2 linked regions of the Homo sapiens genome follow. The protein of the gene in region 1 purifies or fractionates together with the protein of each later gene. This does not show direct contact. Each region holds a gene or a part of one and is shown on either strand. Other genes may lie near its edges.

Region 1 (4,268 bases):
GAGGGTGCTGGTGGCAGGGGTGACGGGGTAATGGCGGTCTCAGGGGATGGGAGGGCTTCACAACTGTATCTGTGGAATAACTCTTTTCCAAATTGGCTTATTCAAAAAGCATGCTTAGCAGTGACCAAAAACGAGACAGCGGGCACGCTGGATTTCTTTCACAAGAAGAGAGAGCCTAGGAATTAATAGAGTTTTCTAACTGGAAGGTTTTTGTGGTTACTGTATTTTCCCACATGTAATTATAAGCTGGAACAAAGGCTGGAAAACTTGGAGGATCCTGACGACGAAGGGCCCACCATCCAGCCACCTGCTTCGGCGTGTGCTGAGTTTAAAAGGCCTCTAAGATGTAGACGGATTTACTCTCCACCTCACAATTCTATTTCCAGAAGGGGAGAGAAGTTGAGGAGACCCAAAATGAAAGATGGCAGAACTGTATTGGTTTGTAATTCCTCCCCACAGACAGACAGACAGACAAAACCACTCACTTGGGAAACTCAAAATAGATGCTCGCTTGTAAAGTTTATTGACAACTGTTTGGTCCCAACACACAAAACAGCACTTGAACCACAACAAAAGTGTTCAAACAAAGTAGACAACTAAGAAAAACATCTCTTTCCCCCAAACCCAATCCAAAACAAACAGTGCAAGATGGGAAAGGGGGTTTTGGTGATAACTTTTGTCATTTTTTTAAACAGATAAATTTAATCCGGTATATCTTTCCACCCAGAAATAAAGAATTACATTGTCTTAATGCTCAAACATCATTTTACCACATCATTTAATTAAGCCTCTGGATAAAAAAATAGATAGCAATTGGACTGGCCATTGTGGAGTACATTATGAACACAATGTGCTTCCGAAGTCTTCTCTCTCATTTTCAGACAGCAATTGTTAAGAGTCACACACACGTCCCAGACCTAAGCAGCAACTCCAGTGAATGGTACTCAGACACACTCACGGGACAGCACAGAACTTGATTCTTCTTTGTCTGTTGCCCAAAGAACCTGTTCTTTGAGTCTGTTCCAGGTGACTTGTAATGATACCTCTTACGGTTTTAAAGTCCACCACTCTTTACATGCTAGCAGAACTGAAGTCCAAGCGTGCAAACTCAGCCTTATGAAATCTTAGAATAAGGCAACTGATGTTCTCAACACCAATTATTATTACTTTGTTTAAAAGCTCCTTTAAAAAAAATTGCACATTTGCATTTCACTTCCTGTAACACTATGTCTGTAGAGGAAATGCCTTCAGGAGGATTCGGAGAGTGCCATAATACTTACAGGGTTTTTTCCATGGTGTTCTGTCTTGACTGGGGCCATGTGTTGAGAACTGGGAGTCACTGGCTTCATTTAAAAGATTTGGGGAACAAAAAATCTGACTTGTAAAAATCTCTCTATAGCCCTTATTTTGTGGCATTTTATCAAAATGCTATGAAATCAGAGTCCATTTTCTGGCTTTCTAGAAGTTACCAAATATAAACATTTCCCCAAAAGAAACCATCTAACTAGTGGAAGACCTTACGCCAACAGGTTCTTTCTGCTCTATGAATGAATCCGCCTTTTTTGCCGGACAAATACAATCCATTGTAAATGTCAGGTTTCTCTAGAGGGGGGTGAGAGGCCACCCGTCAGCGGACACCTCAGGCACCTAGAGAGGAAGGCCATTCCACACCAGACGCCACAAGAAACCCAGAGATGCTTCCAACAGCGAGAAGTAACGAGAGTAAAATCAGACACGATTAAAAGATGCTGAGCTGACATACACACACATAAAGCTTCCCAGCTACCGATACCAGCTTTAAAATTACAATAACAAGGTTAAGTGGATCAACCTTGGCCTTCCTATGTGTAGGTAGAATTCCTGTCTCTTCCCAGTGGAAATCGTATTGATCCCGCTGCTGCTGAAGCACCTCCCCACTCAGCTCTGATTTGTAATTTATGCACTTGATGCATATTTTAGAAAATCAGGCTCTTTCCAATGCTGCCTCTCGACACACAATAATGTGTGTTGTAATCCAAATGCTGACTTTAAATCCATGACATCGAGACCATCTCCTTTTCCTTAACCTAACCCATATCAAACTGGAACACAGAAGGGAAGCTTCAAACATCCTCAACTTTCTAGAAAGCTCCTAAATGGAACCCCAAAGTAGAAACGTTTAAAAAAATTTGTGATGAAGCCACTTTTGTCAACTACAGACATAGTTTAAATAAAAAACAAGGCACACTTACAAGTCACATGGAAGCCAGGAACCTTCACATTCCAACCTGAAAATACACTCCGAACCCCTCGCCTACCCTTCTCCTTTGGTGTGTGAACACACAGGCTAGCGGGACAGGCTTTGCTTCAAAGACATGCCACGCACTGGGTTAATACTGTCGGAAACACCAGTAAGCAAAGGCTGAGAGACTCTATTATGCTACATGTAGGATGACACCACCGACGTGGCTCAATGGAAGCAAAACCGCTTCCTGCTAGTTGAGTTTTTAGTGCTTTCTTCTTTTGGAACACCATTGTATTTCATAATAGTTACTAAAAATTTGGTAAAATATATTAAGGATTCTTTAACAAATGCCACAAGTTCTTCAAATAATTGAAAAAAGAAAGAAAAAGGAAGAAGAAAAGAAAGACTTCAGCTCAAAGCTGTGTTCAATGGAAAAGAAAAACATGATAGAACACAGGTAAGATGAAGTCAATGGCTTCGGGGGGTTTTCATGACACAGAAAAGGATGTATTTTTGAAACCCACTTTTGTGTGCAGAATCAGACAGTGTTTTCCCATCCTAATTCTATATTCCAAATGGGAGTTAAAGCTTGGTTATAGGTGCTAAGGAAAAGTTGGCTGCCAATTTGACTCTATTTTTGGGTTGCTTTTTGGCCGGGCTTTCCACGGGGTCCTTGCTGAGCAGTGACTCGGAGGTTTCCGAGGAGGGGCAGGGAGGCACGGGGACAGCTGCTGAGATGCAGGACGAGCTGGAGTCAGAGGTCAGAGTTTTGCTCTTTCCTGGTATTGGAATCTCCATTTTTTCTTCTTGGTTTAAAATCATAATTTCTGTAAACACAGAAAAGCAAACAGATTCAGATCCAGGAACTGTAAGAAGTGTGGGTTTTCTCTTCCTTGCTCATATTTTCTCAAAAGATAATAATAGTAATAAAAAGCTTCTAAATGCTACATCTATGCCACAGTTTACATATGAGTTGTGTGGCCAGTGAACTTGGCACAGAAATCAAGTATCTATAAACTGCATCCCACCTCTCCCACTGGATTACAAAGTTGGAAAGATCTCTATTTTGAGCTATAAATGAATGAGCAAAGGTTAAAACTTTTTGTTTTTCCATTTTGGATTCTCTGCCCATTCATTCTGCCTGCCAGATATTAAGGACCCATAAAGCTATCCACGACTTAGAGACTTCCTGAGGCGGGAGGCCGTGGGTGGTAGGGGGTGGGGTCGGAGCATCTGGGTGTCAGGGAGCTCCTGGCCTGCTCCATTTAGAGAGGACCTATGCTCCCCATGGGTCTATTACCGGGGATAAGGAAGGACTACGCAGAGTGAGAATTACCCTCAGAACCCAGGAAGTTGAGCACAGCCAGCTTTCCCACAGTGCTTCTGGACTGCCATTTCTGTGGCTGAGCCACATGTAATTCACCTGCTCTACACACAGGGCCACGCTGCTTGAAAGAGATGCATCATTATGCCTTAGACTCCCACTGCATAGGGCACAGGGCTCCTGCTCCCAAAGGCCCATGGAAGGTGAGAGTGGCAGAGGGGACAGCAGAGCCAGCTCCCTGCCTAGGCTGACCCTCAAGAGAAGAGCGGCTGACAGAACTGCCCACAGTGTTTTAATTATTTTCCTCTCTTGTCCGGTGCATGCAGTTGAACTTGCCCAGACTGAAGGCACAAAGGCCACAACCCCACAAACGAGCTAACATCAATGTGCCACCAACCCTAGGGGGGCACTGCACAGGAGCAGGGCATGGTCTAGGTCTGACTGCACAGGCTGGTTCTATCCGCAGGCAGTTACTTCCCCATCTCCTATTTTCCAAGTCAACAGCCTCAGTTCTTTTCCTGGGCAACAGTGCTGAACGCTGCCAAGAACAACCAAGATGGTAAAAGCCAAGCCAGGAGTCCACGGGTTGTTCCTGGTGACCTGGAAAGCAGCACCAGCAGTGGGGAGGAGTTGGGTTCCAACAGATGAAGAGCAGGGAGGGATCTGTACAGGGCAGATGGGCCATCCTCTCCAGAGGCCAGGAGACACCGCAGGACAAGA
Region 2 (3,961 bases), on another chromosome or scaffold:
GCACTCACCTACCTCCAGGCTTCTGCACAAGCTATTCCATTTCTGCAGCCCATAACACCAACCTCTTCCCACTGGCTGTCGAGAAAACTAAACTCTCTGACCCGCATCCCTCCTTATAGCCAAAGGCATCAGCCCCTCCTCCTATGATCATAGTTCTCCCCTTCCAGACAAATGCATATGTTCACAAAGACTTTCAGGGCATAAAGTATCCCCTTAAGGATGTGGCTGCTAGCCTCATCTTTGACACAGTGTCTTGAAATATTTGTTGAAGGAACAAATGATAAATAAATGAATGAATGCACATATAAAATATCCCTGTGAGGCTCTGTTTCTGAGTTGGTCAGAGATGTAGCCTGGTGAGGAGAAATGCTCAGAGCCAGACAACTGGCTCCTTCATTCTCCTGCCAAGGTCAGCCTTCAATAAAAAACAGCCCCGGCCAGGCGCAGTGGCTCATGCCTGTAATCCTAGCACTTTGGGAGGCGGAGGCAGGAGGATCACCTAAGGTTAGGAGTTTGGGATCAGCCTGGCCAACATGGTGAAACCCTATCTCTACTAAAAATACAAAAATTAGCCGGGCAGAGTGGCGGGCATCTGTAATCCCAGCCACTCTGGAGGCTGAGGCCGGAGAATTGCTTGAACCCGGGAGGCAGAGGTCGCAGTGAGCCGAGATCGCGCCATTGCACTCTAGCCTGGGCTGCAGAGCGAGACTCCATCTCAAAAAACAAAATAAAACAAAACAAAACAAAACAAACGAAAAAAAGCAGCCCCTAGGACCTCCAGTGGGGGTAGGGGCAGCTTCCAGCCTCTGAACCTAGGGTGAGAACTGTATCCCCAACATCAAGAATCAGTACTAGACTGCAGGGCAAGCCGACTGCTCCATAGCTGGAAAGTAACTCCAAGAGGACAAATCCTGAGTTGCCCTAGGCCACACCATTTCTACAGTGCTCCTGACATAGGTGCTCAATACACGCTGGTTGATGGAGCCAGCCAGTTCATGTGCCCAGCTGAAATGTATGTCCAGACACTGCATTGAAACTCTGCACTTCTCTTGGGTAATTGCACCCTTGTCAAGCATGCAAATCCTTTAAAAAGGATCCCCCTGCCAGAACCACCAAGATCTGGGCTTGTGTCTGTACAAATTCCTCGGGAACTGTCCCTGGCTGCAACAGGAAGGAAGGAGGCGCCAGAGTCTGGGGGTGCACACGTTTGTCCAGGAACCTTGATGGATTAGCAGAGGGAAAGCCAGACCAAGGGAGAAGCTTTGTCCAAATGTCTTGGTTACTCATTAGCCAAACCTCAGAGCTTCTCTCTGCAAGGGGGGATCAGAGGGGCAATTAACCCATTTGGAAGAAAGGTTAAGCTAAATAGCTCTCTAATCCTGCGGTTTCAAAAGATAGCAAGTAGGGTTTCTGGAATCTTTAGATACTGTAAGGCAAGCACAGGGGATGGGGCACGGGAAAGGAGAGGCCATAGACTGAGGGAGGCACTGATACTTATAGAGCCCCTACCTGTTTCATACCCTTCATTCCGATCCATCCTAGGCCAAGCCCATTTTGCCCAGAGGGTCCCCATCTGGATTCAGATAGGTTAAGTGTTTTGCCCAAGGTCACAAAAAAGGTGCAAAGAAAGTGTTTTTCTTTGTGCAACAGGTACAGTCCTTTCCCTTCCAAAAGATAATGGCTGCTCCTGGCTAGAGAAAGTTCAGTCCCGGCAGGCAGGAAGCCCTAGCCACCTAGGCGTCGCGCGGTGGAGGTCACACGCCTGCTCCGGGACTGGACAAACAGCAGGGTTTTAAGGCGCGGCGTCCCCACTCCCAGGCGAGTTTGTGCCAGCAGGGTGTGAAAAGGTCAGGCTCGGGTGGGGGTCAACGAGCCGCTTCCCATCCCGAGGGCCCCACCCGTGAGCCCGGGTGGGCCGCGCCGCCATCGGGGCGGGGACCACGCGGGCCTGCCTGGTAACAGGGGGACTGAGGCTTAATCCCATCAGGGCGCCTCCGCCCTGGGAAGACGAGCGGAGGGGGGGCGCAGGCCAGGCCGAGAGGACGTGTCCGGAGCCTCCGCGTCCGAGGGGCCCCGCGCGCCGCCCCTCTCACGCCCCCCGAACCACCGCGCTGTCCTCCGGGCTCCCCTCGACCAGGGTTCCGTCTCGCTCGCCGCCCTTGCTTCCCACTTCCACCTCCGGGGCCTCCAACCCGCACAAATGTCCAGACCCTAGCAGCTCCAGGCTGAGTAACCCAGATCTCCAGCGATCCCTCAGCTCCTAGCCACGGGATCTCTCTGAATCCATTCCCAAGGCTCAGGCTGGCATGGGAGGAGATTGATCCTCTCGCTCCCAGTCTCGAATCACCCTTCGCCGTCACCCCTGACTGGGGATCCAGTGGGACCCCAGGCCTCCAGCGCCCGATCCCCTCCAGGGATCGACTCCCAAGTCGCCAACCAGGTGGCACGTGATCCATTGGTTGCCCTGTGCGGGATCTTCCCGCGGGATCCACTCTCAAGTCTCGGGAGACGGATTCCCCGGCTCCCAAACCGGGATCCTCCCTCCCTGCAGACCCGGAGTCTGGGGAAATCCTCCGGCTCCCCGCCTCTTCCCCGGCCAACTTTGCCAACTTTTCTCCCGGGGCCTCGGCCGGGCAGAAACTTGGCGGCCCTCGCCAGCCGCCGTCACCCCCAGCTACCTCGTCGGCCGGGGACAGGAGGCGGCCAGCCGGCCCCCACTGCCCGCAGCCGCTGCGCAACCTACCGTGGAGCCACCGCCAGCCCGCGCCGCGCCGCCACCTGCCCGCAGCCCGCGGCACCTGCCCTGGGAGCCCGCAGCCCCGCGCAGCCTAGCCTGCTGGGGGCGGGGCCTCGAGCGGGGACGCGCCCCCGTCACCATGGGAACTGCCGCCGGCCGCGCCTGCGCGGAGGGGAGCAGAGCAGGCAGGACCCGAGTCCGCAGTGGCGCCTGGGCCTGGGACCTCTCCGGCGGGTCAGAGGTCACGACTCGCTTGGACACCCCTGCCGGAAGCGCTCCCGCCCCTCGAGGCCCGACCCCGCTCTGTCCAATTGGGAACTTTGCTCCGGGTACCCTCCCGCGTTCCCTGGATGTTCCCCAGTCACCAGCCAGGATCCCCCGCCACCGGCACCGACCCGCTGCCCAGCCGGCGACCCCGAGAGCCTAATGCAACCCAGGATTTCAGGAGGCGCTCCATAAATGTGGGCCCACTGACTTGCCTGGGCTGCTGGTGCCGGCCCGGGGGCGGGCAAGGTCTGTGCGCGGTGCTGGCGCCTCCTCGCGCCAAGCAAGGGCACTGCACCTGAGAGTTCGCTGGAGCGCCTACTGTGTGCGCATCCTCCTGCCATTATGTTGTGGGTGTGAGTTGTGGGGTAATGGGTACAGGAACTTGTGGACAAGTTGAGAGAATCGTAGGAAGTCGCCTCTGAAAGAGAAAATACCTGTTCTGTTATCCGTTACTCATTTCATTCAGCAGATCTTTATTAAGCACCTATTGCATGCTGGGTGCTGGAGAACCCAGTGGTGGGCAGCTGGCAAAATCCAGGCTGTTGTGCAGCTTACAGATATTCAAACAAATAATTTCACGAGTATATCAAATTGAATCTGTGACATGTGCTCCTATGGGAAATGTACAGAGCATGAATAACTGGAGGACCTAAAATCAATGTGCCTTTATTATAAGCAAGATAGACCTCAATAAAAAAAGAGAAAGAAAAGGACATCACAGGCTGCGCACGGTGGCTTGTAATCCCAGCATTTTGGGAGGCCGAGGCGGGTGGATCACCTGAGGTCATGAGTTTGAGACCAGCCTGGCCAACGTGGTGAAACCTCGTCACTACTAAAAATTACAAAAATTAGCTGGGCGTGGTGGCGGATGCCTGTGATCCCAGCTACTCGGGAGGCTAAGGCAGGAGAATGGCTTGAACCCGGGAGGTGGAGATTGCAGTGAGCCAAGAGCGCGCC

Evidence for each region.
Region 2: the proteins of MARF1 (region 1) and KIAA1671 purify together in Homo sapiens (affinity purification with mass spectrometry, with the first as the bait; one large-scale study listed by BioGRID). This does not show direct contact.

What each region holds. Positions count from the first base shown.
Region 1 is NC_000016.10:15,593,887-15,598,154, forward strand, and holds the end of MARF1 (meiosis regulator and mRNA stability factor 1), read right to left. Parts: intron 3,052-4,268; coding exon 2,807-3,051; 3' UTR 501-2,806; downstream 1-500.
Region 2 is NC_000022.11:24,951,555-24,955,515, reverse strand, and holds the start of KIAA1671 (uncharacterized protein KIAA1671), read right to left. Parts: upstream 2,801-3,961; 5' UTR 2,744-2,800; intron 1-2,743.